Linked DNA regions of Homo sapiens: regions 1, 2 and 3 are each linked to region 4. The links come from fine-mapping of genetic effects on gene expression. A gene starts in region 4. Each other region holds a variant in brackets. All regions are shown on one strand. Distances are between the middles of the regions.

What was found.
Region 1: its variant is fine-mapped to the expression of TEX101 in whole blood (INTERVAL, PIP above 0.99).
Region 2: its variant is fine-mapped to the expression of TEX101 in whole blood (INTERVAL, PIP 0.97).
Region 3: its variant is fine-mapped to the expression of TEX101 in whole blood (TOPMed, PIP above 0.99).

What each region holds. Positions count from the first base shown.
Region 1 is chr19:43,332,218-43,340,041 of GRCh38, forward strand. No RefSeq gene overlaps it. Among named protein-coding and RNA genes, the nearest start is that of LINC03078, 4.6 kb to the left of the region's middle. The variant T/C (reference allele first, on the strand shown) is at 3,719.
Region 2 is chr19:43,366,738-43,374,561 of GRCh38, forward strand. It overlaps the pseudogene CD177P1. Among named protein-coding and RNA genes, the nearest start is that of CD177, 17 kb to the left of the region's middle. The variant C/T (reference allele first, on the strand shown) is at 3,494.
Region 3 is chr19:43,348,762-43,355,032 of GRCh38, forward strand. It overlaps PRG1 (p53-responsive gene 1), which reads left to right and starts at 295. Exons shown (of 1, transcript NR_026881.1): 1 at 295-787. It overlaps CD177 (CD177 molecule), which reads left to right and starts at 4,925. Exons shown (of 9, transcript NM_020406.4): 1 at 4,925-5,005; 2 at 5,092-5,232; 3 at 5,446-5,631. The coding sequence starts at 4,954. The variant T/A (reference allele first, on the strand shown) is at 2,306.
Region 4 is chr19:43,410,815-43,418,638 of GRCh38, forward strand. It overlaps TEX101 (testis expressed 101), which reads left to right and starts at 4,076. Exons shown (of 6, transcript NM_001130011.3): 1 at 4,076-4,224; 2 at 5,067-5,169; 3 at 5,285-5,428; 4 at 5,559-5,741; 5 at 7,064-7,192; 6 at 7,354-7,783. The coding sequence starts at 5,106. The coding sequence ends at 7,583. RefSeq lists a silencer at 2,277-2,463.

The DNA of each region.
Region 1 (7,824 bases), 79 kb before region 4:
TGAAACTGGCCTGTTTGGGAAATCGGCTATTATCTTTCGAAGGTCAGGTAGCAGCTCAGTTTTCCTTTGGTGACCTGTGACATTGGGGAAGGACTGCATTGTGCTGTTGGTCTGGTCTGTTGGGGCCTGGAGCAGGAGCTCAGCCACTGCCATGGCCTCCTCTGACTGCTGTTTAGCAAAGCTCTCAGGTGGGGCTGATGGCGCTGTCCTGGGGAGGCCCTTTCAGTAGCAAGGCTGGTGCAACCCTGTCCCCTGGGAGGATGACCCGCCCTCCCCAGGGCTGACCTCTGCTATCTCCTGGCCTCAGGTCTGTCAGCTCCACACACAGAACCCTGGGGATCCAAACCTGGGGAATTCTTTCTTTGTGATGCAGAAACCCAGCTGGCCAGGTCTCCCCATGCTCTTTAGTGCTTGGGAAGGTGGGATGATGCCCAGCAGGAAGGTGACAGAGGTGGCTCTGGGGGATAGAAAGGAGCTCACTGGGGGATGACTGGGGAGGGACCAGCCCTCTGTCTCCAGTGTCACCAGCCTGGCCTCTGACCCAAAGAGACCCAGGCTGGACTCAGGTGGAGCTCCAGCTCCAGGGTGTGGAGGAAGTTGTCCTGTGTGTCCTGGGTAGAGAGGACTGTGGTGGAGGGAGGTGGGTGGCTCTGAGCCCTGCTGTCCTTGGGGAAGGCTTCATGGAGACCCTCCCTTTCTGTGTCTGTTGGCTGAGCTGTGGCTCAGGGCCTGTCCATGTTCTCCCTATGTTCACCCCTTAACCTTGCAGGTGGTTGGGGGGGCGAGAGAGATAGAAAGACTGTGTCTGTCTGTGTGTGTGTGTGTGTGTGTGTGTGTGTGTGTGTGTGTCCTGTGGCTACCACACCTTCCCCATGGGTGATGCCAGGAGGAAGTGGGGAGCTGCACAAAAACCCTTGGCAGAGCAGGCACCATGAAGGAGCAGGCACATGGCAGGGACCAGAAGGGTCATTTGGGGCAAGGGCTGGAAACCAGGCTCCACCTCTACCTCCTTAGCAAAGCCAGGTTCCTGTCCAGGGGAATCCATTTCCTGAGTGTTATCTGTGTGTGATGTCGCCCCCTGGAGGGCAAGAGGAGACTTGTGGCCTTGTCAGGGGCTGCCCCAGGGACACTGACCAGGGTCTGCATGGTATGAGCTGGCCCTGACCCCTGGGCAGAAGTGGGATCTGACCTCCAGACTGCAGGGTCAGGTCACCCCAGGTCCTGTTCACTGCAGGTCCCCAGGCTGCCCAACTCCATGCAGTGCAAGATGAGCCCAGGGAGAGGACAGGAGTTATCCAGAGAACAGCAGGTCGAGATTCAAGAGAACTGTCCACCAGGAGGATGGGCTGCCTTAGAAGGAGCCACCTGTCCCCAAGGTTTCAAAGGAAGGGCTCAGGGAGGTATCTCTGGGGGCTTTAGAGAGAGGATGCCAGCCTGGGAGGTAGGTGGTCCCCAGAATGCCCTGTGTTCCTCCATCACAGCACTGGGGGTGCTGCCTCCAGGTCAACTGTGTCCCTGTCTGATGCCCACTGTCACTGCTGTTACTCAATATTGTACTGGAGGCATTGGCCAATGAAATTGGGGTACAGATACGAATAGAGATATAAGACTTAGAAAGAGGGAGAATAAGCTATACCAATTCACAACCAATATGTGATTATATATCTAGGAAATTCCAGACATAGTGAAAAACTAATCAATGCAAGAATTTAATAGAAAGATGTAAAGTTAACATAAGGAGGTTAATAACTTTTATACACAGAAACAATACTCAGATAGAAGGTGTAATATAAGACCTCTTTTATTATGACAATATAAAGATAAAACACCTGGGCATACCCTTAACAAGAAATTTGTAAAACCTATACGAGAAAACTCTTAAAACACTCCTAAAGGACACAAAATTCATCTTCAAAAGATGAAGAGACACATTTAGTTTCTTTTCGATCACTTTATTATGAAAATGTTCAAGCACACAAACAAATTGAAAAAGTTGTACAGCCAACACTTACATACTCATCATGTAGATTCTGTAATTGTTAATATTTTGTAGTATTTGCTTGATTAAATATTCTTACATCCATGAAAATAAATCCATCCTATTTTTTCATGTATGTCAGAGTGAGTTGCGGATCTCAGTACCCTTAGGCCCTAAATACCCCAGCACTAACGTCATTAACTAGAGTTTAATATTTGTTTCTATCTTAGGTGAAATTTACATAAAGTAAAATGCACAAAGTTGTAGTGTACCTTTTGATGAGTTTTGACAAATAAGTGCATACACCCATGCAACCCCTTCCAAGACACACACAGTTCCTGTTGCCCCAGTGAGTTCCTTCCCAGCCAATCCTCATGCCCAGTCCCACCTCCAGAGGCAACCATCGTGCTGAGTTTTCATCATAAATTAATGTTGTCTGTAGAAGAATTCCATATAAATAGAATCATACAATGTGTACGTTTTCCTGTGGGTTAAATTTTCTTTTGCTCAGCAAAATGTTTTTGAGAATGAAGTATTTTGTTGCCTCTATCAGTAGTTTATTACTTTTTTTTTTTTTGAGACAGAGTCTCGCTCTGTCGCCTAGGCTGGAGTGCAGTGGCATGATCTCTGCTCACTGCAAGCTCCGCCTCCCGGGTTCATGCCATTCTCCTGCCTCAGCCTCCCAAGTAGCTGGGACCACAAGCGCCCGCCACCACACCTGGATAAATTTTTTTTTTTAAATATTTTTAGTAGAGATGGGATTTCACCTTGTTAGCCAGGATGGTCTCAATCTCCTGACCTCGTGATCCACCCGCCTCGGCCTGCCAAAGTGCTGGGATTACAGGCATGAGCCACCGGGCCCGGCCTTGTTTATTACTTTTTATAGCAACATAATATTCAGCAGTGTGAATATACCACATCTGGCTTATTCATCCTCCTATTGATGGGTATTTTGTTTTAATATTTCCTCAGTTTTGGACCATTATTATTATGAATAAATCTGCTTTTAAAAATAACTTTGTGTATGTTTTGGATGGGCACAGTAGCTCATGCCTGTAATCCCAGCACTTTGGGAGGCCAAGGAGGCACTGATCCCTTAAGGCCAAGAGTTCAAGACCAGCCTGGGAGACATGATGAAATCTCATCTCTACAAAATAATAATAATAAAACAAAATAACATCTTTGTATGTGTCTTGTTATGATCACATGTTTCATTCATTTTGGGTAAAATACCTAGGAATGAAATTGCTGGGTTATGGAGTAGGTATATGTTTACTTGTATAAGAAAGGGACAGACTTTTCCCAAAGTGGTTGCATCATTTTACATTCTCAACAACAGTATATGAGAGTTCTGGTTGCTCCATATATCCTCATCAACATTTGGGGTCTTGTCTTTCTACTTTCAGGAATTTGGTTGGTGGGTTGCAACATTTGATTGTGATTTTAATTTGCATTTCCCTGATGACTGATGATGTTGAGTAGTTTTTTTCTGTGCATATTAGCTATTCGTATATCTTATTTTGTGAAGTTTCTGTGAAAATCTTTTAGTCATTATTGCATTCAGAACAAAGGATTAAAAAAATGCATCGCTTGAACCCCCGAGGCAGAGTTTGCAGTGAGCCAAGATCGTGCCACTGCACTCCAGCCTGGGCGACAGAGTGAGACTCCATCTCAAAAAACAAAAACAAACAAACAAACAAAAAAAAGCATGTGGAACTTTAGCATGAGTTGACTTCACTT[T/C]GGGCATGCTGTCTTTAGCAGTCACAAAAAAATGAATAGGCGGGTGAACTATTGTAGAATGTAAGAGATATAATAACCAAATATAAGGCATAAGTCTTGATTGGATTCCAGTTTTAAAAATACACATGGATAGCCAGGCGTGGTGGCACACACCTATAGTCCCAGCTACTCTAAAGACTGAGGCAGGAAGATCAGTTGAGCCTGGGAGGTGGAGGTTGCAGTAAGCTGAGATCCTGTCACTGCACTCCAGCCTGGATGACAGAACAAGATTCTGTCTCAAAATAAATTAAATAAATAAATACAGATGGAAAAATCATTTTGGAGACCAAAGGGGAAGACTGAAAAAGGACTATATATTAGATAGGGTTAGGGAGTTATTGTTTATTTTCTCAGGTGTGATCATGGGATTGTGGGCCAGTCACTCTGGGGAGAGGCACGCTAAAGCACTCAAGGACATAGTGTCACTCAAGGACACAGTGCCTTGATGCCTGCAATTTACTCTGACACAGTTCAGAAAAAAACGAGGAAATATGGCAAAATGTTAAACTTGAATATAAGGAGAGGATGCGGGTATTCTTGGTATTATTTTTTCCGCTTTTCTGGATGTTTGAAATTTTCATAATAAAAAGTTGAAAACAAAGGATGATGTGTAAGAAAGTAACTTGGTGGCATCAGAGGTCATGGATGGTGGCATTGGTGCAAAGACATCAAGGATGGGAAGGGTCTAGTTATACAAAGAGTAGATGAAAGACACCCCAGGCACAGGAACAGCAAGTGCAAAGGCCCTGAGGTAGGAACTAGCCAGCATCACATTGTCAGCCCTGCGAGTGACCTTCCTAGAAAGCAGACCCTTCAGGCCCAGTAAAGCTGCAGATGACTGCACCCTGACTGGCTTCTTTACTCCAACCTCATGAGACTCACCAAGTCACAATCACCCAGCTTCATAATAAAAAGCTGAAAACAAACACTCTTCAATTCCTGCCCCACAGAATTTGAGAGGTAACAAATATCTGTTGCTGTTTTAAGCCCTGAAGCCCTGGGGTAATTTGCTAGGCAACAATGGATAACTAATGCAGCTTCTGTCACATCTTCTAGGAAACTTCTTAACCTGCTCTCTCAGTACAAAATCCCCTTTCTCCATTTGGTTCCATGTAAACCTCTGTTCATCCTTCAAAATTCACCTAAAGGAGTGTTTCCCAAAATAGGGTTCAGGTGTCAGTGGCTGAGGGCATGTGAGATGATTCTAAGGGGTTACACACGACAGTTGTTAAAAAGCGTTACAGGCTATGCTTGTGATTAAGCGCCTATTAGAGAAAAATAATTGAAAATAGCATATTAATCACATGATTGGATAAACATTATTGTTTTAAGATGAGGCCAAAGAAAAACAGTGAGTTGCTTTAAGGAAAATTTTTGAGTAAATAGCAGTGCAAGTGCTATTCAGATCGTAAAAGTGGAACACGACTAAAATTTGGAAGCGCAGTGAGGAATAGCAGGAATTCCTCTAGGAAACCTTCCCTGCCGCTCCAGGTGGGCCAGTTTGCCCCTCATTCAGACCCCTAAATACCTAAATATCTCTCCACTTGGCGCTGGTGGAATGTGTCAGGATCCCATCTCTGGCTGATGGAAGTCTGTGAGGAGGCTGTGGGCTCTGCATCTGACCTGAGCTCCAAGTCTGCAGGGCAGGCCCTGGGGAAGGGGAGATGGATGGAAAGTGGGGAGTAAGGACAAGCCAGGAGCCCACACAAGGTGGAAGGTTTCGGGACCCACAGAACCTGCCTCTATTCTTGCTGCCTCATCTTGGTGGTGCAGGGGACCTGCAGGAGTGACCTTTGTCACAGAGGTCAACGCACACCTGGCTCAGGAGGTGGAGAAACTGAAGGAGGATTGGGGTAAAGGTGGAGCAGTTTCAGGTCCTGCTGCTGCTCCAGGCTGACCAGCCGAGCTAGCAGATGAGCAACACCTGGACCTGAGCCACGGAAGCTCCTGCCTGGATTTCCCCAGCATGAAATGCACAACGGCGGCTGCTTTGGGCAGGTGTGTCCCGCTCCCACCCTAACAGGAACCTACAGGGAAGAGAGTTCTGAGAGGTGTCGTTCAGCCTAGCCACAGTCATTGTCACCACACCCTCTTATGGGCCTGAGCACCCTTTTCTGTCTGCCCTTCCTGGGAATGAGAAGTCCCTGAGAGCGGGGATGGGTCTCATTCATTTTGGGGTCTTAGTATCATTCAGCATAGGGCTTGGCACAGAGCAGGAGCTCAGGGAGTGCACAGTGAATTAATGAATGATTCTTAAAGAGCCCCTACATTTAAGTAAGAAATCCATCCATTGAATAAGAAATCCATCCATCACAGGTTCTTCCTGTGTCCACCTGGGTGGGGAAAGATGGACTCATCAGTGGCCTGAAAGGGATCAAGTTAAGTCACCCCAAAATGTACCACGTTGGTATAAGGATTGTTTTGAGCTGAAGGCCATTGAGAATCAACAGATGCTGGAAGAGCACTGCCCTCTCCTTATCTACCTAGAAGCAGGGCATATATTTCCTTTTGGGAAGGTGTTTCCTCCCCAGACCATTAAGAAAAGCAACTCATCCTGGAGATGGCGAGTCCACACTGAGATGAGTATGCATAGACCGACCTCACTAACAGAACCTGCATCTCCATCAGTGCCCCAGGTATTTCCGGGTCACTGTCCCATGATGTATCACCCTTTGAAGAACAAGCCCCTTTCCTTTGTTAAAATGGTATATAAGCCCCACAAGTCTAGCCGTTTCATTTTTTCTTTTCTGTGAACTCCCATGCATGTAATAAAAATTCTCTGCCCTTTCTGTTGTTAATTGGTCTTTTGTTAGTTTAATTCACAGGCCTCCAGATACTGAACCTAAGTGGATAGAGGAAAAGCATTCCCTCCCTGAAAGGCAGTTTTCCAGACTAACAAACAAATGTCATAAGTATGTACATCTTCCAGAAAACGGAGTTGTCTAGTTACATAGTATGCCCTGGGCAATGGATTAATACATGTAACTTAGGCAATTCATCTGAATTTCAGATTTTTGAAGGCTAAGAGCTACCTTCACAGGACCAAGTGATGGTCTCTGGAGTCTGGGTGTTTTACAGAGCTCCATTGATAGAAATAATCTTTGCAAGAACATTGTAGGATGATGAATAGGATCTGCTTATATCTCAAGTTGTCTGGGAAGCGGGGACATTTGCTCCTTCTTATCTTGCTGGGATTTCTGTCACCAGCAGTTGGAAGGGACTCCAGTTTTAAGACAAAGGTTTACAGTTTCTTTGGCACCAAGAGCAAAAGAAGCATAAAACTAGGCAGAAAGGGGTATAATATTATCATGTTGAGAAAAGGAATATGGAAAATGTAACCTTTTGCATCTCCTGAGTTAATGAATCTATACTCTGAGAAGGGCAGAAATGAGAACCACCTCCCCATCTCTGCAATAAATTCCCTAGAAGGTTTGGATTTTAGCCAAGAAGTTTCTGCTTTCCTGGAGAATGTCTCTCAATTCAAACTCTAAACCCCAAAGCCAGAAAAGGCAAACGTTACCTTGTCTGGGCTTTAATCCAAGTTTTCAGTGGCTGGAAACACGGTTACACTCCTGGAGACAAGGTGGCCTTGGACACCCAGGAAGAGCCCTGCTCCCGGGCACACCTGGCCCTGGAGCCAGACCACCTGGGTTTGAACCCCAGCTCTGCACCTTACCAGCAGAGCTTCCTGTCTGGAAAGTGGAGATGATCGTGATATCACTGACCTCAGACTGTGGTTGTCTCAATTAAATTAACAATCCATGTTATGAGTGTACAAGTATCGGGCACAGAGCATTGACTCAATTAATACTGATCTGTAATGAATGGGGATTCATGCCAAGTGCTGATGATGTGCATGACATTAGTGCTGACTGCTGTAAGTACTGGAAGCCGTCATGATAATGAACAGTGACTTTCATCACAGTTCATGGGGTCCTTTGTGAAACATGAGGGGGCATTAAGCAGAAACAGCCAGCCCAGCCCTCTCCACCACCCTTTGAGGAGGTGTATCTATGCCTGGTTTACAGTGTGGAAACTGAGGCTCAGAGACGGGGACTGGATTGTGC
Region 2 (7,824 bases), 44 kb before region 4:
TACAGGATGAAAGGTTTTTGTGGGCGTCAAGCAAGAACATTGTAGGATGCTGAATAGGATCTGTATACATCTCAAGTTGTCTAGGAAGCAGGGACATTTGCTCCTTCTTATCTTGCTGGGATTTCTGTCACTAGCAGTTGGAAGGGACTCCAGTTTTAAGACAAAGGTTTACAATTTCTTTAGCACCAAGAAAAAAAGAAGCATAAAACTGGAGAGAAAAGGGTATAATATTATGTTCAGCAAGGAATATGGAAAATATAATCTTTTGAATCTTCTGAGTTAATTAATCTGTACTCTGAGATGGGCAGAAATGAGAACCACGTCCCCATCTCTGCAATAAATTCCCTAGGTTTGGATTTTAGCCAAGAAGTTTCTGCTTTCCTGGAGAATGTCTCTGAATTTAAACACCACACCTCAAAGCCAGAAAAGGGAAAGTTTACTTTGGGCTTTGATCCAAGTTTTCAGTGGCTGGAAACACGGTTACACTCCTGGAGACAAGGTGGCCTTGGACACCCAGGAAGAGCCCTGCTCCTGGGCACACCTGGCCCTGGAGCCAGACCACCTGGGTTTGAACCCCAGCTCCGCACCTTACCAGCAGAGCTTCCTCTCTGGAAAGTGGAGATGATCGTGATATCACTGACCTCAGACTGTGGTTGTCTCAATTAAATTAACAATCCATGTTATGAGTGTACAAGTATCGGGCACAGAGCATCGACTCAATTAATACTGATCTGTAATGAATGGGGATTCATGCCAAGTGCTGATGATGTGCATGACATTAGTGCTGACTGCTGTAAGTACTGGAAGCCGTCATGATAATGAACAGTGACTCTCATCACAGTTCATGGGGTCCTTTGTGAAACATGAGGGGGCATTAAGCAGAAACAGCCAGCCCAGCCCTCTCCACCACCCTTGAGGTGGTGTATCTATGCCTGGTTTACAGTGTGGAAACTGAGGCTCAGAGACGGGGACTGGATTGTGCACGGTCACCCAGTCACGAAGGCCAGGAAATGATGGATGGGATGCAGGCTGTGCGCTCAGCCACCTCCCCGTGGAGCAGTTCAGGGGCACTGGGCATCGGGTCGCCCTGAAGATGCTGCTCTTGTCTGTCTGCCTCTCTCTTTCCACCGCACTGGGTCTCTGTTTCTGGCTCTGTCTCCTCCTCACTGTGTGTCTTTGGCTCACTTTGTGTCTTTTCATCTCTGTGTCTCCCTGTCTCTCTCTGTCTTTGTCTCCCTCTCACTTGGTCCCTTCCTTCCTTTCTTCCTTCCTTCCTTCCTTCCTTCTTTCTTTCTTTCTTTCTTTCCTTTTTCTTTCTTATTATAACACCATTGATTTTTAATCAAGGATCCACAAGCTTGGGTCCTCTCTTGTCTCACCCTAGTCCTGCCCTGTGTCTCTCTACGGCACACCTTTTACTTCTCTGGCTCTGACTCTCTGAGTTCTCCCTCTGTCCATGCCTCTCCCCTCCCTCCATCTCTCTGTGTTAGTGTCTCTGTACCCTTTCCTCTCTGCCTCTCTCTGTATCTCCCCTCTCCACCCCCATATATCTCTGACTCTGTCTCTCTCTGGGTCTTTATCATTTTCTCTTTCTCTCTCCATCCCTGCCCCCATTCTCTCTCTGCCTTTCTCGATCTCTCTGTTTCTCACCCTCCTTCTGCCTTCCCCTAAGCCAGGGACTTCATGGCTCTGATGGCTGTCCAGCGGTGTTGCCCATTTTTATTGAAGTATCCTTCTGTCGACCCACTTGGAAAGACTTCCAAGATACACTGCACAGTGAGAAAAACAAGAAGCAGAACAGTGCACAGTGTGCCACCTCTGGCATTACAAAGGAGGAAATGTAAAATGAATTTATAAATGGCCAATAAGCAAATAAAATTTGGTCAACATCACTTATCATTAGGAAAATGGAAATCAAAACCACAGTGAGATACCACCTTACATCTGTTCTGATGGCAGTTCTGAAAAAAAAAAAAAAAAAAAAAACAAAGTGTTGGCGAGGAGAAATTGGAATGCTTGTGCAGTGTTTGTGGGTATATAATATGGCACAACCACTGTGGTCATTTCTCAAAAAATTAATCATAGACTTACCACACGATGCAGCAATTCTACTTCTGGTGTATTCTGAAAAGAACTGAGAGCAGGGGCCCCAGCAGGTATCTGCATGTCTTTGTTCATAGCAGCATTATTCACACTAGCCAAAGGTGTAAACAAGCCAAATGATATGGCTTTCCTCTGTCCGAACACAAATCTCACGTTCAGCTGTAATTCCCAAAGGTCGAAAATAGCCTCCTTGTCCCAGCCACCTGACCTCCCTCTGTAATGAGATGCCGTTCCCCCGACTGCAAGTGACTCAGGCTCCCATGGCACCTGTCCTCCTGCCCCTCCCTCTACCACATCTGTGAGCTCCTGGGAAGCCCTGTGACCTCATACAGAGGAGGAAAGTGCAGACCAGGCTTATGGATGGGTCCTCACGGTGAGCTGGCGCCCAGCAGAAGTGGACGGCGGCTGCCTTAGTGCCCACTTCAGGTGGTCCTGAGGAGTGATGAAGGGAAATCCTTCAGATGGGCAGAACCTCAGGGGTTCTGCAAGGAGGGATGGACTTGGGTCCATTGCATGAACCCAGAGCGGGCCACATGGTCAAGGACTTGAAGAGAATAAAAGAGTAAACTTAAGACAGGGAGGACACATGGATGTTCCTCTGGGGATGGGCACAAAGTGTGAGCTATGCCGTCCCCACCCTTAAGCCCAGAACCTGTGCTGTGGGGATGAGGTTCTTGGTGTTTGGTGGATGGTGTCAGGCAGACTCTGTCCCTCAGAGCTTGTTCAGGGGGTCCAGGTGCAGATGGCCACATGGATAGGGAGGACGGCGACGTACCTTACCACAAGTGGACTGAGTCTCCCAGCACTGGCCTGGCTGCACACTGTACCCAGCCCTGCCCAGTGTAGGCAGAGCCCGGGGCTAAGCCCCTGGAAGGCGTCATTTTACAGGAGGACTACCCGGCCACTGCAGATAGGCTGGCCACACAGGACACGTCCCATCCTGGAGGGGACTGGGCTTTGTCCTCACACGGATACGCACACACTGGGGGTTCCAGTTGGCCTTCCCTGGACCCTGCTCAGTGCTTCTGTGAACAGCGCCTTTCCTGTGGCTCTGGAACCCATGCAGGGTTGCTTCCACTGGGGACACGTGTTAACGCAAAGAATGGGGGGTAATTAACTCACACCCATGGAACCCACTGACCGTCTCAGGTGCCCCTCTATACAGACACAGCTGCTTCTCAGATTGGCGCAATGGCTCATGTGTGGCTTATCAGGGCACCGGGAGGGAGACCGTACCCCACCACCCACAGGAGGGGCCACACATCTTATAAACCAGCAACCAGGCTATCGGGTCACGCGCCCCAGGGCCAGATGCAAAGATCCAGGAAAGACAGGAAGAATAAGCGCGGCTCCCTCCCGTGACTGCACCTGCCAGCCCACTGAGAGAATG[C/T]TTGCTCTTTGTCCCCGTGGCCCTGGGCTGCTGTGGATGAGGAATCTCTTCCTAGTTCTGATCTGCAGGAAGCCATGACAGCCCTCCAGCCATCCTGTGCCCCTTGTGCTGCCAAAACAGCAGGCAAAGGAGACGTCACTCTGCAGTCGGGGGAATGGCATCTGATTACAGAGGGAGGTCGGGTGGCTGGGACAAGGAGGCTATTTTCGAAGGCAGGCAACTCATGGCGGTAACATTTCCTTGGCCAGGGCCCTGTTCCATGGAAAACTATAGAAACCCACTAAAGACAAGGCCATCCAAGACTCACTCTCCATAAGAATCAAGATTTGGGTTACACTGCAGGTAACAAATAACATCCAAAGGAGGTTTTGGAGGTGGGAGGACAATGTGGAATGTACTGGAAGAAAGCAGCTCTGAGCACCAGCAGCCCCGCCCCCAGGACCTCAGCAGCTGTATTGGAAGCCATCTCTTCCCCATCTTCCTCTCATTGTGGGCGAAGAACTGGTGCACAGCACAATGGGAGGAGGACATCACTGTCACCATCACACACTGTTACTGTGACAGAGGGAAGGACTGGAATTGTGTGTCGTCTGTACGGAGGACTCTGATTATTTTTTCCCCCTTGAGACAGGGTCTCGCTCTGTCCCCCAGGCTGGAGTGCAGTGGTGCAGTCTTGGCTCACTGCAGCCTTGACCTTCTGGACTCAGCCTTCTCAGTAGCTGGGACCACAGGCGTGCACCACCACACCCGGCTAATTTTTTGTTGTCTTAGTGGAGACTGGATTTCACGGTATTAGCCAGGATGGTCTCAATCTCCTGACCTCATGATCTGCCCGCCTCGGCCTCCCAAAGTACTGGGACTACAGACAGGCACGCACCACCACACCCGGCTAATTTTTTGTATTTTTTGTAGAGAAGCAGTTTCACTATGTTGCCCAGGCTGGTCTCAAACTCCTGGGCTCGAGTGATCCTCCCACCTCAGCTTCCCAAAGTGCTGGCATTACAGGCGTGAGCCACCGAGCCTGTCCTGGACTCTGATTTTCATCTGGACAAAGGGAAAGGGTGGATGCCGAGGGGCAAGGGAGTGAACGGTGCTAGACGTGTTCTGTTTCCTTCTCCAGATTCACTCTCTTCTCCTCTTCCCTTTCCTCTCCTCTGTTCTCTACTGTGAATGGCAGATCTATGGGGGCTGGACCAGTGGAGTCTCCTGCTTCTGTGGCCTCTAGGGGGTTCAGTCAATGGGGAACCTCAACTGGAGACCAGAGTGAGGACATCAGTTTGGAATTTTAGTTCCCCACTTCCCTCCCCAGTATCATTGCGGGCTGGACGCGTTTTTCAGCCTGAGATGGGAGCTCTTGTTAGGCAACCCTCTCTGAATATCTCTCTCTTTCTGTCTCCGGCTCTCTCTCCAGCTCTCTCTGTCTCTTTCTGTCTATGTCTCTCTCTCTCTCTCTCTCTCTGTCTGCAGATTCCAGCAGTGGCTCTTCTCCTCACCCTTTTTGGGCTATGGTGGTAAGAGATACCCAATGGTAACAGCTCTGGGAAAATGCTAACCCATTTTTTTCTGGAGTTCTCTTTAGCCCTTATGTCAATTATCCCACAATAGGCAGATGCTACATAGCAACGTTTGGGTCAGTGACGAATTGCGTATAGAACGGTGGTCTCCTGAGATGACAATAGTGTATTTATGCTGTACCTTTTCTATGTTTAGATGTGTATAGATGCACAAATACTTGCCGTGGTGTTACGATGCCTGCAGTATTCACACCATAACATGCACTGCAGGCTTGTAGCCTAGGAGCAGTCAACTCTACCATCCATCCTGGGTGTGTATTGGGCTGTACCATCTGGGTTGGTGTAAGTGCACTCTACAATGTTCCTTTCGTGATAAAATCACCTAACGACACATTTCTAACGACACGTCCCTGTCGTAAAGCAATGCATGACTATACTAACCTCTCCTGCAGTCGCTCAGATGGGGCCAGCCCCCTGTTTGTGCTAGGGCCCTGGCTGCTAGGCTGGAAGCCTCATACATCTCAGTGCATCTTCCCCTCCCAGGTCATGGTGATGCCCAAATACGTTTGGCTGGAGCACCCTGAAGTCTCTGCTACCATCCAAGCTGGTTTGGAGACATGAACCAGACCAATGAAGGGCAGGCTTTGGATGGCCATTTTCTCATTAGGTTCCTCTCCTCCACCATGCTAGATCCCTGGGCGTCCTGCTGTCCCCTTACATGGAGAAATCCCAGCACTGGGAGAAAGCACAGGGTCTTTATTATCAGACACATGCAGCCACTCCTCCAGTGTCCCCTCTCCCACAGGGCAAGTCCGGCTGCTCCAGGCTCTCCCCAGTGTTGCTATTAGGTGAGTAGATATGAATGATTATGTGTGGGGAAGATGATTCATGGACAGGATGGGGAAATAATCTGGTGTCCAAGGCCATTAGGTTACAAGCACAAGGGACGGTTGAGTGTGGTGGTGAGCAGCGGTGAAGAATCGTGGGGGAAATGGAGTTAGCAGGAAGGGCAAACCGCTCCCCACCACAGCGCTGGGGCCAGTGCCAGCCCCACCCCCCAAGTGAGACACTCCAGGCCCCCAGCCCCACCTCCCTCATGCTGAGAGGCAGGAGGCGGCTCATCACCCTTCTCACACACAGAGAAGATCCCAATTTGTCTGGTGTGGTTCAACAAGGAGCTGGAAGGTTGGGCCACACAGCCCTGAATGCTCATTCTGGTGGTCAGCCCACCTAGAGGGAGAAGACCAAGTCAGAAAGGACACAGAGTACAGCCCAGCCAAATTCATAAACCCAGGAGTCCAGGCCCCAGACCCTCCTCCCTCAAACGCAGGAGCTCAGACCCCCAGCCCCTCCTACCTCAGACCCAGGAGTCCAGGCCCCCAGCCCCTTCTCCCTCAGTCCCAGGAGCCCAGGACACCAGCGCCTTCATCCTTGGGGCCCTGCTTGCAGCACTCACCTCCTGAGAGATGAATGTACCCATCATAACAATGAGTGGCGCCCCTGGGGCAGGTCATTCGGGGGGAGCCACTTGAACAGGTTCCAAGGGGCTGCACACAGGTAGGACACTGCCGGTCTCCTGGGACAGGGGCAGCTGGGGAGCAGAGGGAAGGTGGGGGTACATGACTTTGTGCTCAGAGCAGCTGCCCACCTTGGGCCAGAGTCTCTGTGTGTCTGGGCCTCATTTCTCCACGGCCCTGGATCCCATACCTTGAGGAGGGAGGGAGTTCAGCAGAACGCTGCTGCTGCTGGCACTATTGCACAGGTCCGAGGAGCAGAAGTGGGTATAGGAGGCCACAAGCACCCCAGGAGGGGCTGAGTGGATGGTGGTCTTCTGGGAATTTTGAGCCCCAACAGCGCTGCAGCTTTAGGTCGCCACCAGGGTTGATGTGAGTCCTGAGGGTGAGAGGGAAAGCTGGGCTGGGGACTGGGCAGCTCCCAGGGCAGCAGGGGCTCCAGAGCTGGACTCCCTGCCCTTCACAATACCCCCCAGGCAGAGGGTGAATGCCCTGATCACAACTGCTGGGTCATGTTTAGTGTGGGGCAAAGACGGAGGCTGGGGCCTGGGTCCTGCCCGAAGCTCTGCCTCCTCCCAGTTCTCGCTCAAACGTCACCTTCTCCATGAGTCTCCCCTGAGCACTGAGCTTAAAATTGCAGCCTTCCCCTCACTTTTCCTATCTCCTTTTCCTTGCCAGATTTCTCTCCAGAGCTGGGATCTCCATTCCCCATACTTTGCTGCTTTTTGTTTGTTTGTTTCCTGTTTCTCAAGGCATATAAAGCTGCAGGAATACAGATGGGATTGGATCTGCGGCACCTAAAACAAATGCTGGATAAACATTTCCAGAATGTATGAAGCCACTGAGAGTCCTCGGTGTTGGCACGGTTCTCCACCCTGGGCAGGGATTACCGCATACGTGGTCACCCCTCCCCAGAAAGGCAGACACTGTCATTCCCACTGCTTCACCCCCAGTTTTCATAAGGGGAACCCAAGATGCAGAGAGAAGAAGAGTCGGATTGAAAATTGCAGATGTGAAGGGAGCTGAGCAGGAAATTCAGGGGAAAGAATCCAGTGGGGTGGAGGGAGCTGCCAGGGACTTGGGACAGGTGTTCGTCTTCTACCTCAGTCCACGTACCTACATCTATGAGCAGCAGCATCTCCTGACACACCTGCCCCACCTCGCACGTCTCGGTATTAGATGTGGCCCAATCAGTGGGTTCTTTACTCAAGTTTTCCTGCTTCTTCAAGGTGGTCCCCCGATGACAGGTCAGAACATCTGGGGAGAGGAAACCCAGGGTCTGTGTAAGCCAGGAACCCACCAT
Region 3 (6,271 bases), 63 kb before region 4:
GGCACATGCCATCATGCCCAGCTAATTTTTGTATTTTTAGTAGAGACAGGGTTTCACCATGTTGGCCAGGCTGGTCTCGAACTCCTGACCTCAGGTGATCCACCCACCTCTGCCTCCCAAAGTGCTGGGATTACAGGCATGAGACACCACACCCAGCCAGGCCTATGAAAATCTTTAAGTGTAACTTTTCATTAAGTGCCATAGATCCCTCCTCTTTATAACATAAAGTCCTGTAAACTGCATGCAGGTCAGTTTGCCATAGGAATAATTTGTCTTTGCTGGAACATGCTGGGTGCTTGGCAGATGAAGAGATTGGAAGTGAACCACTGAGATGACTGATGAGCGTCCTCAGCAGGCTGTGTTGCAGGGGGAAGAGTGCAGGTTGTTTATAAGGCCTGGGTCGTGCCCCTGGCCACCATTTCCTGGCTTTGTGACTCCAGCTTTACTTCTCCTTCCCAGGGCTCAGTTTTCCTCTCCTTGAAGGGGATGAGTGGAACCAGCTCTGGACGCTGAGCTGCCTGGGTGTAAAGGCTTCCTGTAATGGGCAGAAGAGTGGATAGGAGGGCAGCAGGGGAGCTGGACCAAAAGCATCATGTGATTTGCCGTGATCACAGAGGATTTTCTGGAAGTAGCTTGGGCACAATGTGTGCAAGGAGACAGAAGGGTCTCGTGGTGGGGAATAGGACATTCACACAGCCTCCTCCATGGCTTACCTCACACAGCAGTTGTTAATTAGCCAAGAATTTGACAAACAGGCATTAAAGGCCTTCTGAATGTGACACACGACACCCAGCTAGAAGAATATTGCCAAAAATCATTAAAACTACTCTAATCATAGTCTGAGTCAGACACATCCAGGTGGTGGAAGACTTTACAAAAAAAAAAGAAGTGAACCATTGCTTTCAATGACATTAAAGAAAATGAAAGGCAGGTGGGGAGCACTCCTAGATTAAAGGGGAGTCCAGAGATGAGATGTAAACCAAAAGGTATCTGAGACAGGTCTCCATCAACTTAGAAGCTTATTTTGCCAAGGTTAAGGACATAGAAAAAACCATGCAATCATAGAAACAGTCTGTGGTCTGTGCCTTTTTCCAAAGATAATTTTGAGGACTTCAATATTTAGGGTGGAAAAGCTGGCTGGCGGTGAAAGAAGGAGGGTGTGGTCGCATTACTGAATCCACATGGTGTAAGAGAAAGCAGGAGGTAGGGGAATAATCAATCACGTATTCATCTCACGCTCAGTAAATTGGCACCTTGAGAAAGATAAGGTGAATATGGCCGGGCGTGGTGGCTCACACCTGTAATCCCAGCACTTTGAAAGGCTGAGGTGGGAGGATCTCATGAGCCCAGGAACTTGAGACCAGCATGGACAACATGGCAAAACCCATCTCTACAAAAAAAACCACAAAAATTAGCTGGGCGCGGTGGTGGGTGCCTGTAGTCCCAGCTACACGGGAGGCTGAGGTGACAGAATGACTTGAGCCCGGGAGACAGAGGTCGCAGTGAGCCAAGATCGTGCCACTGCGCCCCAGCTTGGGAGACAAAGTATGATACTCTCTCAAAAAAAAATAAATAAGTAAAAATTTTTTTAAAGAAAGATAAGATGAACATAGAGTAGCTACCTACGGAGATACTTAACCTTTTCTCTGTAGCTGTCTGCTTAGGAACAAAAGGAAAGGCAGTTTCTTGCATGACTCAGCTTCCAGTTTTTTTTTTTTCCTTCTGTCACAGTGAATTGGGGTCCTGAGTTTTTGTTTCTCTTTCATAAAGACAACGCAGTGCAGTTCATGCTTGACCCCGGATGTTCTCCTGATCAGAAAGCAAAAACGCAATGAGAGATGTCATTGGGACAACAGAGGAAAACTGGAAATGGGCTTCCTATTAGACAACAGTGCATCTGTGTAAACTACACGGGTCTGATCCTGGTCTGTGGTTACGCAGGACAAAGTCCTTAAGAATAATCTATATAGGCTGGGCGTGGTGGCTCACACCTGTAATCCTAGCACTTTGGGAGGCCGAGGCAGGTGGATCACCTGAGGTCAAGAGCTCAGGACCAGCCTGGTCAACATGGTGAAACCCTGTCTCTACTATAAATACAAAAATTAGCCGGACGTGGTGGCAGGCGCCTGTAATCCCAGCTACTCGGGAGGCTGGGACAGGAGAATTGCTTGAACCTGGAGGGCGGAGGTTGCAGTGAGCAGAGATCACGACACTTCACTCCAGCTTGGGTGAGAGAGCAAAACTGCATCTAAAAAAAAAGAGAGAGAGAGGAAAAAAAAGAATGATATATGCTTTTTAAAAATTT[T/A]TTTATTTATTTATTTTTTGTGATGGAGCCTGGCTCTGTCACCCAGGCTGGAGTGCAGTGGTGTGATCTCGGCTCACTGCTGCAACCTCCACCACCAGCTTCAAGTGATTCTCCTGCCTCAGCCTCCCAAGTAGCTGGGATTACAGTTGTGTGTCACCATGTCCAGCTAATTTTTATATTTTTAGTAGAGATGGGGTTTCACCATGTTGGCCAGGCTGGTCTTGAACTCCTGACTTAAAGTGATCCTTCCAAAGTGCTGGGATTACAGGTGTGAGTCACTGTGCCCAGCCCCCTTAAGAATAATCTTAAGAAGGTTCTTGCTGAAGCACTTAGTGGTGAGAGTTACAATGTCTACTCCTTGTTTTTAAAATTTAAGAATATTTTAAAAGCATATGTTGTGTGTGTATAAACAGATACAATAAAATGTGAAGAGTGGGTGAATCCAGTGAAGGGGATACTTGTGTTCACTGTACTATCCTTGCAACTTTTCTGCCGGTTTGAAATTTTTCCGTCTTTTTTTTTGAGATGGAGTCTTACTCTGTTGCCCAGGCTGGAGTGCAGTGGTGCGATCTCGGCTCACTGCAACCTCTGCCTCTTGGGTTCAAGCGATTCTCCTGTCTCAGTCTCCGGAGTAGCTGGGACTACAGGTGGCTGCCACTACACCGGGCTAATTTTTGTATTTTTTTTTTAAGTAGAGATGGGGTTTCACCGTGTTGTCCAGGTTGGTTTCAATCTCCTGACTTCAATAGATCCACCCGCCTTGGCTTCCCAAAGTGCTAGGATGACTGGTATGAGTCACCGCTCCCAGCCTGAAATTTTTCAAAATGAAAACACCGCAGGTCAGGAGTTTGAGACCAGCCTGAACAACATAGTGAAACCCTGTCTCTATTGAAAATACAAAAATTAACCAGACATGGTGGTGTGCACCTGTAGTCCCAGTTACTCGGGAGGCTGAGGTGGGAGAGTTGCTTGAGTCCAGGAGATGGAGGCTGTAGTGACCTGCAGTGAGCTACAACTGCACCACTGTACTCCAGCATAGGTGAGAGCAAGACTCTGTTTCTAAAAAAAAAAAAAAATTACTGGGCATGTACTGTATGCCATGTAGGTGGTGGAGACATAGCAGGAGATCAGACAAACACTTCCCTGTCTGTGTGGCAAATATTAAACTTGCAATAAACTTGCAAAGACAAATAAAGATAAAATTTATAGAGATGTCAAAAATAAACATATAATTGCAAGTCACATTCATTTCTCTTTCTCTGCTATTCCTGCTCTCGCCTTCCCTCTTCTGCTTCTCCTCTCTCCGTCACAGACACCCACAACGTCCCTCTGCAGTCACTGACAGATACCCCAGGTTCCTTCCTGTCTTCCTCCCCGCCACCCCAGTGTGTTACAGCTGATTTGTACAGCCCTGGACAAGCCCATGGTTAAATAGCTAGGGATTTCATCAGCCTGGTTGGCAAACTGTAGGTAGCTTAAAATCAGACATGCTATGAGTATTTACACCAGAGAAATAGGCCAACACTACGAGGCAGGATTTGTGGGTATTGTTTTTCAGAAAACTTGGTTTTTCAGCACAACACTGCTCTCCCATCGGCTTCCAGCAAATAAATGTTGCATTTTTCAGATATATCCTAATTCTTTCATAGATATTCAGTCTCTACTCCACCTCTGGCCAAGCCTTTCCTGGTGGTAGGAAACTGGGGACTTGAGTCCTATGTTGTACTGTGAGGGTAGAGAATAGAAGAGAAAGCATGAGAGAAAAGCATGAAAAGAAGAATCAAAAGAAAGCAATATAAGAAGGAAAGAGAAAGAACAGAGAAGTGGGAAGACAGTGGAGGGTAGAAACTAGGACCGGAAGACATGGGGACAAGCTGATGCCCACTGCACAACGTCCTCACAGGTAGTTGGGCCATTTCCCCATCTGGGGTACAGAGGTGGCCAGGGAGCCCATGAGAAATGAGGAAACTGCCTTCCCAAACTACTGGAGAAAGAGGGTGGGGGTGGTGATCCACATAGCTGGGCTCAGGAGGAAAGAGGGCTGGGAGTCTGGACCGGGGGAACCTCGGGTCAAGATGCCACAGTTTCTAACTATGGAGGGCCTGGGGGCCTGGACTCCTGGGTCTGAGGGAGGAGGGCCTGGGGGTCTGGACTCCTGGGTCGGAGGGAGGAGGGCCTCGGGGCCTGGACTCCTGGGTCTGAGAGAGGGAGGCCTGGGGCCTGGACTCCTGGGTCTGAGGGAGGAGGGGCTGGGGGGCTGGACTCCTGGGTCTGAGGGAGGAGGCACTGGGGGCCTGGACTCCTGGGTCTGAGGGAGGAGGGACTGGGGGCCTGGACTCCTGGGTCTGAGGGCGGAGGGGCTGGGGGTCTGGACTCCTGGGTCTGAAGGAGGAGGGGCTGAGGGGCTGGGGGTCCTGGACCCTCCATCTGAGGGAGGAGGGGCTGGATGCCTGGACCCGAAGGTCTGAGGAAGAAAGGGGGTCCCTGATAGGCCACTGCGGCCATTGAGACTTGGGGTGGGGCCCAAGCCTCCATTTTGCAAGGCCCTCCCCTCCCCACCCTTTTCTGGGCTGGCTGCTTAAGGGCTGGTATAAAGGACTTGTTTCCTGCTGAAAAAGCAGAAAGAGATTACCAGCCACAGACGGGTCATGAGCGCGGTATTACTGCTGGCCCTCCTGGGGTTCATCCTCCCACTGCCAGGTGAGTGATGAGCCCAGCCTGGAGGAGATTCCCTGGAGGCCGGGCAAGGGAACCCTGCTGAGATGGATTTGCTCTTGCCACTCCAGGAGTGCAGGCGCTGCTCTGCCAGTTTGGGACAGTTCAGCATGTGTGGAAGGTGTCCGACCTGCCCCGGCAATGGACCCCTAAGAACACCAGCTGCGACAGCGGCTTGGGGTGCCAGGACACGTTGATGCTCATTGAGAGCGGTGAGAAGGCCCTGGCGTGCAGAGACCCCGCCCTGTCCCCTCAGTCCCTTGATCCCTGTGCAGGGACCCGGGAGCCACCCCTCCGGGGGATCGACTCCTAGGGTCCCGGTGATCCCCTTTCCAGCCTCTCAGCCTACGCCGTGTAGCAGCGTCTCCCTCCAGGACCCTGGAGGCCTGACCTCCATCCTCGCTTGCCTCCCTCTTTCGGTCCAGGACCCCAAGTGAGCCTGGTGCTCTCCAAGGGCTGCACGGAGGCCAAGGACCAGGAGCCCCGCGTCACTGAGCACCGGATGGGCCCCGGCCTCTCCCTGATCTCCTACACCTTCGTGTGCCGCCAGGAGGACTTCTGCAACAACCTCGTTAACTCCCTCCCGCTTTGGGCCCCACAGCCCCCAGCAGGTGCCTGCGGGAGGGTCGGGAGGAGAGGGAGGGGCTGCTAGAAGGGGATCCGCTGAGCACAGAGGGGCTGTTACGGAGTCCCTCCCACCCTCGCTCGCTATCCCGACCCTCGCTGGCTCCATCCCTCCCCTGACTGCTCCCTGACCATCGCCCCGCCCCGCTCCCTTTCCATCCCTCCCCACTCACTCCCGATCCCTCCCACCGACCTGCCACCCGGGAATCCCCGCACCCCTCCTCTTCTAAGAGCAAACAGGACGGATTTCTGATATGAAATCACCATTAACTGGGTTATCCTGCATTCTTTTTTTATTCTGTTGCGTTTGGTTCAAGAAGTTCTCCTGCAGGGTTTTTGCTATTTCCTCTTCCTAAGGGAGACTGAACTGTAACTTTCCACTTTCCTTGTCTGGTGTTATAAAGAGTCTAGGGAGATATTTTGCGCTTCTTTTATTGGAACAGCTTGTGAACACAGAAGTCTCCTGTTCTTGGAGGTTTAGTAGCGCTTGCAGGTGAAGGCACTGGCTCGTTCCAGGGCACCCCCTCATTCCCTTGACCAATGAGTCTGCTTCTGTGTCTCCCCTCGGAAGGCCAGACTTTGTTGAAAGGTTCAGACTTGACCATGTCTGAGTCTACATTTGGCCTC
Region 4 (7,824 bases):
CACTCACAGTCACACATGAACACACATAGCCAATTATACTATAAAGTACAAAAAAAAAATTTTTTTTTGAGACAGGGTCTTGCTCTGTCACCAGAGCAAAAGCTGGAGTACAGTGGCGTTATCTCGGCTCACTGCAACTGCAACCTCCACCTCCTGGGCTCCAGCGATCCTCCCACCTCAGCCTCCCAAAGTGTTGGGATTACAGGCATGAGCCATGGCACCCAGCCTAGAATCTTACTTGAGGTAAAATGAGAATCCACTGGAAGGTTTTGGTTTTTTTGAAACAGAGTCTTGCTCTGTCACCCAGGCTGCAGTGCAGTAGCACAATCTTGACTCACTGCAGCCTCCACCTCCCAGGTTCAAATGATTCTCTCGCTGCAGCATCCAGAGTAGCTGGGATTACAGGGGCGCACCACCACGCCCAGCTAATTTTTTCATTTTTAGTGGAGACAGGGTTTCACCATGTTGGCCAGGCTGGTCTCGAACTCCTGATCTCAGGTGATCCACCACCTCGGCCTCCCAAAGTGCTGGGATTACAGGCCTGAGCCACCGTGCCTGGCCCATTAGAAAGTTTTAAACAGGAGTAATGTGGTGTGGCTTGCAATTAAGAGATCGCTCTGGTGCCAGGTGGGAAATAGCCACATGGGCAAGGGCAGGGCGTACTGCAATAATCCAGTGACCAATGGTGGTGTCACAAGTGCTTATATAAAAAGATGCCTTCACTGTATATTAGCCATTGAGCTTTTTTCTTTTTTACAAACGTTCCATGGATTCATAAACTATTTGCCAACCATTGCTCTAGACTAACCTCCTCATTTTCTTTTTTTTCTTTTTTTTCTTTTTTTTTGAGACCAAGACCAAGTTTTGCTCTTGTTGCCCAGGCTGGAGTGCAATGGTGCAGTCTCAGCTCACTGCAACCTCCGCCTCCCAGGTTCAAGTGATTCTCCTGCCTCAGCCTCCCAAGTAGCTGGGATTACAGGCGCGTGCCACCAGGCCTGGCTAATTTTTGTATTTTTAGCAGAGACAGGGTTTCACCGTGTTGGTGAAGGTCAGGCTGGTCTCAAACTCCTGACCTCAGGTGAACCACCCACCTTGGCCTCCCAAAGTGCTGGGATTATGGGCTTGAGCCACTGCACCCAGCCTAACCTCTTCATTTTCTAGATGAGGACACTGAAGCTTGGAGAGGAACAGAAATTGGCTCAGGCTAAGGAAGATCTGTCAATCTCTCTTGCACCAAAAAGGCAAAGCCACCTTTCTCAAGGGGCTGTGTATTGGGGTGTTCTTGCACTGCTATAAAGAAATACCTGAGACTAGAAGTAATTTATAAGAAAAGAGGTTTGATTGGCTCAAGGTTCTGCAGCTGTACAGGAAGCGTGGTGCCAGCATCTCCTTCTGGGGAGGCCTCAGAGAGCTTTTACTTATGGCAAAAGGATGCAGGCCAGAGAAGGGGAGCGAGAGAGAGTAAGAAGGGGAGGTGCCACACACTTAAACAACCAGATCTGGCAAGGACTCACTCATCATTGCAAGGACAGCACCAAGTCATGAAGGATCTGCCCCCATAACCCAAACACCTTCCACCAGGTCGCATCTCCAACACTGGGAATTACATTTCAACATGAGATTTGGGCGGGGGACAAATATCCAAACTATGTCACGGAGCAAGAGGAGGTCCCTGGAGCTGTTGAAGCAGAAATGGGGTGAAGAATAGAGGTGGAGGGTGCTTAGGCTTCCAAGGTCTCTTCTAGGTGTGAGATGGAGGGATTCTGCGACCAAGTCACCTGGAGAGTGACTCAACAAGGTGACTGCTTTCCCAAGCACGAGCCCTCGGGGGACAGACGGGGGCTGAAAACTGGCACACATTCTTCCTGGATCCTTTGACATGTGATCATTCAAAGATAACAGTTCAAAGATAACAAAGGGATTGAAGCTTTACCAATCCCTTTCTTATTGTGGCATTTTCTCTATTAAAAATAAATACTCATTTATACTATAACTTACAGAATCAGTACCAATTCTGAAAGTATACAAAGCGTTGCCTTACTTTAAGGAAGGAGACCACTACTACTCCTGCTGCCCTCCTCCCCCGACCTTGCCTAGTTCACAAGACAGGAGGAAAGAGAGAAAGCAAAAAGTTGGAAAGAAACAGAAGTAAGATAAATAGCCAGTCAACCTTGGCACCACCACCCAGCCCTAGGAGTTAAAAAAAGTAATAATAATAACAGCAACCCCTGACCTAAACTACTTGTGTTATCTGTAAGTTCCAGACATTATATGAAAAAGCATTGCAAAACTTTCTGTTCTGTTACCTGATGCATGTAGCCCCCAGTCACGTTTCCCACGCTTGCTCGATTTATCACGACCCTTTCATGTGGACCCCTCGAAGTTGTAAGCCTTTAAAAAGGCCAAGAATTGGCCAGGCGTGGTGGCTCATGCCTGTAATCCCAGCACTTTGGGGGGCGGGCGGATCACGAGGTCAGGAGATCGAGACCATCCTGGCTAACACAGTGAAACCCCATCTCTACTAAAAATACAAAAAAATTAGCCGGGTGTGGTGGTGGGTGACTGTAGTCCCAGCTACTCGGGAGGCGGAGGCAGGAGAATGGCATGAAGTCGGGAGGCAGAGCTTGCAGTGAGCCGAGATTGCACCACTGCACTCCAGCCTGGGCAACAGAGGGAGACTCCAAAAAAAAAAAAAAAGGCCAAGAATTTATTTTTCAGGGAGCTCGGCTCTTAAGACGCAAGTCTGCTGAGGCTCCCGGCCAAATAAACCTCTTCCTTCTTTAATCCAGTATCTGAGGAGTTTTGTCTGCAGCTCATCCTGCTACAACTTCATGTCACACCTGGAAAGCTTACATAGGCCAGGGGTGGTGGCTCACGTCTGTAATCCCAGTACTCTGGGAGGCCGAGGTGGGCAGATCACCTGAGGTTAGGAGTTCAAGACCAGCCTGGTCAACACGGCGAAACCCCGTCTCTACTAAAAATACAAAAATTAGCCAGGTGTGGTGGCAGGTGCCTGTAATCCTAGCTGCTCAGGGGAGACTGAGGCATGAGAATCGCTTGAACCTGGGAGAGGGAGGTTGCAGTGAGCTGAGATCACGTCACTGCACTCCAGCCTGGGGGATAGAGAGAGGCTCTGTCTCCAAAAAAAAAATACAAAAAATTAGCCAGGCATGGTAGCTTATGCCTGTAATCCCAGCTACCTGGGAGGCTGTGGTAGGAGAATCACTTGAACCCAGGAGGAGGAGGTTGCAGGGAGCCAAGATTGTGCCATTGCACTCCAGCCTGGGCAAAAAGAGCAAAAGTCTGTCAAAAAGGGAAGGGAAGGGGAGGGGAAGGGAGGGGAGGGGAGGGAAGGGAAGGTTACATAGATGTGAAAGTGAACTGCCAGCCATGAGCAACAAATCCGAGTGACATGTCTTCTTCATGGTCCTGACACGGACGCGTGGGTTCGATCTGACAGCAGCCTGTGCCATCATAGCTACTGCTCATGCATGCATTCGGGGTGCCCAAAGTGATGCTGAGGGGGGCATTCCTAGATTCAACCCTCCAGGAGACCATGAGGAGGCTGGTGCGATAGCGCAATCAGATGAAGACGCCTGGGCTGCACAGGGGCCACTGCAAGTGAAGACTCAAGAGGCCAAGCTGACTCCCAGAGGCTAGGGCCACTAAGGTGGGTGCCGAGGCAGGGGCCAGGCTGGGAACATGAGAGGCCATTTGGGTAGGGAGATAAGTTCCGTGAGTGAGGGCCAAGGGTCTGACCTCCTAGTGTGGCTGGAGAAGCAGAGACAACAGAGTGCAAAAAGAGAAATGGGCCAGGCGAGGCCATCTGGCAACGCACTGCCCACCCTCCATTGCGTGCCTCTGGCTGCAAAAACAGGCAGGATCTTCCGGCCGGTTTGCCCGCCACTCACCTTCCGAGCATGCGCACCCTCCGAGATTGCCAGGAATTGACTTCTCTGTGGCCAATGAGGTGCCGCGTTCCTCCAGGCTCATCCAATGAACTTATCCGATGCTTTTGCATCCACCAATGGGGTTTCGAGTGCTGTGTGGCCAGGCTGGCCCGGCCTTGCGTCGTAAGAGAATGCCAAGCCCGGGGAGAAGGCGTTCCGGGCCTCAACTTTGGCGTCGTGAGATTCTTGTGAGGCGTCTGCCTGGAAGCCGGCAGCAATTTTGCTTCTTTAAAGAGAAAAAGAAGGCTAGGGACTCAGATTCCTGGATTCTGAGGAAAGAGAAGGCTGGGGACCCAGATCCTGGCTCTGAGGGGAACGAGGGTTGGGGGCCTGGGCTCCCGGGCCTGAGAGGGAGGGGACCAGAATGGTGTGTCCCGCAGGAAAAGGTGGTTGGAACCCAGACTCCTCGATCCCTACATAGGACGGGGCTGGGCTCTCAGAATCCCGGGTTCTGATGAGGCTGGGGCTGGGGCTGGGGGCCGAGATTCTGGGTCCCTGAGAGAATGTAAGGGACCCCTGAGACTGAGGGAGAAGCGGCCTTCAGGGCCACACTCCTGATCCTGAAGTTGGAGGGCACTGGGTGGCCGGGCCTGAGAATTAAAACCATGAAAAACTGGGGCGTGATAAACCTGTGAACTCGCTCCAGCTCACAAGCCGGTTAGGGACAGAACGACTTTAGAAGTCGTGGTCATATACACCATAAACCCCACTGTGAGGCCGGGCATCAGGGCTCACTCCTGGAATCCCAGCACTATGGGGGGACGAGGCGGGCAGATCACCTGAGATCAGGAGTTCGAGACCAGCCTGACCAACATGGTGAAACGTCATCTCTACTAAAAATACAAAAAATTCACTGGGTGTGGTGGCGGGCACCTGTAATCCCGGCTACTCGGGAGGCTGAGGCAGGAGAATTGCTTGAACCTGATAGGCAGAGGCAGTGAGCCGAGATTGCGCCACTGCACTCCAGCCTGGGCGACAGTGCAAGACTCCGTCTCAAAAAAAAAAAAAATGCAGATTAAAACACCCCACCCTGAAGTCAGTACTTGCCAGGACCTAGATTTGATCTCATGCACTCTGGCTGAAAAGTTAATTGCCTTCTCTCCATCAAATTCACAGATCCAGACCAGCTCCTCCCAGACCTCTCCAGAAGAAGCCATGGGAACCCCTCGTATCCAGCATTTGCTGATCCTCCTGGTCCTAGGAGCCTCCCTCCTGACCTGTGCGTATGGGGGACATAGGGGAGAGCCGTGTGTCACAGAAGGTGGACTGATGATGAAAAGGGAGCCGCCTTGGCCCATGGAGAAGTGCTTATCCTTTTCTTGTTTTCTCCTCAGCGGGCCTAGAGCTGTATTGTCAAAAGGGTCTGTCCATGACTGTGGAAGCAGATCCAGCCAATATGTTTAACTGGACCACAGAGGAAGTGGAGACTTGTGACAAAGGGGCACTTTGCCAGGAAACCATACTAATAATTAAAGCAGGTGAAATGAGATGGGGCATTTGGGCTGGGTAGGAGGGAGGTTGATTATCTCCATGCCAATGCTTGTTCCCTTCGTCCAGGCCAATTGTGACGGCCACCATCCATTTCCCCTCCTTCCTGTCTCATAACAGGGACTGAGACAGCCATTTTGGCCACGAAGGGCTGCATCCCGGAAGGGGAGGAGGCCATAACAATTGTCCAGCACTCTTCACCTCCCGGCCTGATCGTGACCTCCTACAGTAACTACTGTGAGGATTCCTTCTGTAATGACAAAGACAGCCTGTCTCAGTTTTGGGAGTTCAGTGAGACCACAGGTACCCTGGAAGTGGGGGAGATAGGTACTAAGAGAAACTCCATAAAGAGCTTGTGTATGGCCTCCCTTTGCATTCTGACTTGGCTTAGCCTAAGTGGTCCATACCCCAAAGTACCTCACAGTTCAAGTAATTTTATGTTTCTGAATTGTTCATTGGGATCTAAACACTGCTCAGAGCAGCGAGATACCAGTGAAGCCTGGAGTGTAAACTGGGTTTTGTGTTTATTAAGCAATAAGACAGGCTGGGTGAGGTGGATCGCCTGAGGTCAGGGGTTTGGGACCAGCTTGGCCAACATGGTGAAAACCTGTCTCTACTAAAAATACAAAAATTAGCTTAGCCTGGTGGCGCACACCTGTAATCCCAGATACTCGGGAAGCTGAGGCAGGAGAATTGCTTGAACCCAGGAGGCAGAGGTTGCAGTGAGCCAATATCACACCACTGCACTTCAGCCTGGGACAGAGAGCAAGACTCCATCAAAAAAAAAAAAAAAAAAAGCAATAAGACATCAGTGTAGGTTTCCGAACAGGGTGGTATTATCAGTCTAACAAGTATTGGTTTCCCACTGCTGCACGAGAACGGCCCAGTTCCCCAATTTACAAGGCCTGTAGTAACTTGGCCCTTCCTGTCTTTTCAGCTTCATTTCCCTCTCTTCCCTCTCTCATTTACTGTGTGCTAACTGGGGCTAATACTCAAAATGCTTAACAATGTAGATGGCACTGGCCAATCAAAATGGATTCTGGCCATAAAAAACAAAAACAAAAACAAAAAAAACAGATCAAAGAAACAGCTGGGCCTACAAGCTGAATATGAGTCGTGCAACTTCTCACAATTCCCTGAATCCACCAAGCTGGCTCACACCACCTGACCTTTGTCCTTGCTGTTTCCTTTACTACCCTCCCCACCCCATTTTCACATAGCTAACCCCTGTTCATCCTCCATGTCAATTCAGGTATCAGCTCTTTGAAAATATTTGCCAAATTCTTTTAGGTAGTTGGGTATTCCTCCATTCCTTTGTCATTATACCTTGAACACAGCAGCTACTGAATTGATTACTTACATGTCTTTCTCCTAGGCAGAGATGCCAGGTGACAGGAACTATGTCCTTTTCATCTCTGTATCTTCACACCTCAGCAGAGTTTGGAAGTCAGATCGATGGAGATTTCACAGCAGAGAACACCAGCTGGGGAAGGATGGGGAGGCTGAAGTAATGGGCCTTGATTAGAGTGGCATCTGCAGGAAAATCTTGGGGAAGAGAAGGCAGCAAGGAGCAACATCTCTGGAGGCAGGACCTGCCCTTAACTGTCTCTCTCATTTCCCTCCAGCTTCCACTGTGTCAACAACCCTCCATTGTCCAACCTGTGTGGCTTTGGGGACCTGTTTCAGTGCTCCTTCTCTTCCCTGTCCCAATGGTACAACTCGATGCTATCAAGGAAAACTTGAGATCACTGGAGGTAAACTGAAATGAACATCTGATAGTTTCAGAGGCTGGAAAACCATTTGAGTGGCTCCCCAGAGATTCTGACACTGAGCTCTCCAGGGATGAGGGGGGACTGGATTCTCCTCTGATGTCCTAAAACATCTCTGTCTCTCCCGATCCTTCCTTGTTCTATAGGTGGCATTGAGTCGTCTGTGGAGGTCAAAGGCTGTACAGCCATGATTGGCTGCAGGCTGATGTCTGGAATCTTAGCAGTAGGACCCATGTTTGTGAGGGAAGCGTGCCCACATCAGCTGCTCACTCAACCTCGAAAGACTGAAAATGGGGCCACCTGTCTTCCCATTCCTGTTTGGGGGTTACAGCTACTGCTGCCATTGCTGCTGCCATCATTTATTCACTTTTCCTAAGAAGGCACTTCTGGGCCTGGGTCTGAGGACATCTTTTTTGACTGGGAGCCTTCTTACTGTTGAGGTTCAACAAGCTGAGGAGTAGATGGGAATTTGAGGGAGAATACAGAGATACTATGAACGTATTTGACATTTTTAATACAATTTCTGCTATAATTTTTGTATGCAGTAGGCGTTACTAATAAACATTTCTGCTGTGATTTGTGTATGTTTCAACACTAGAAGTGGAATTTTAGTGCTG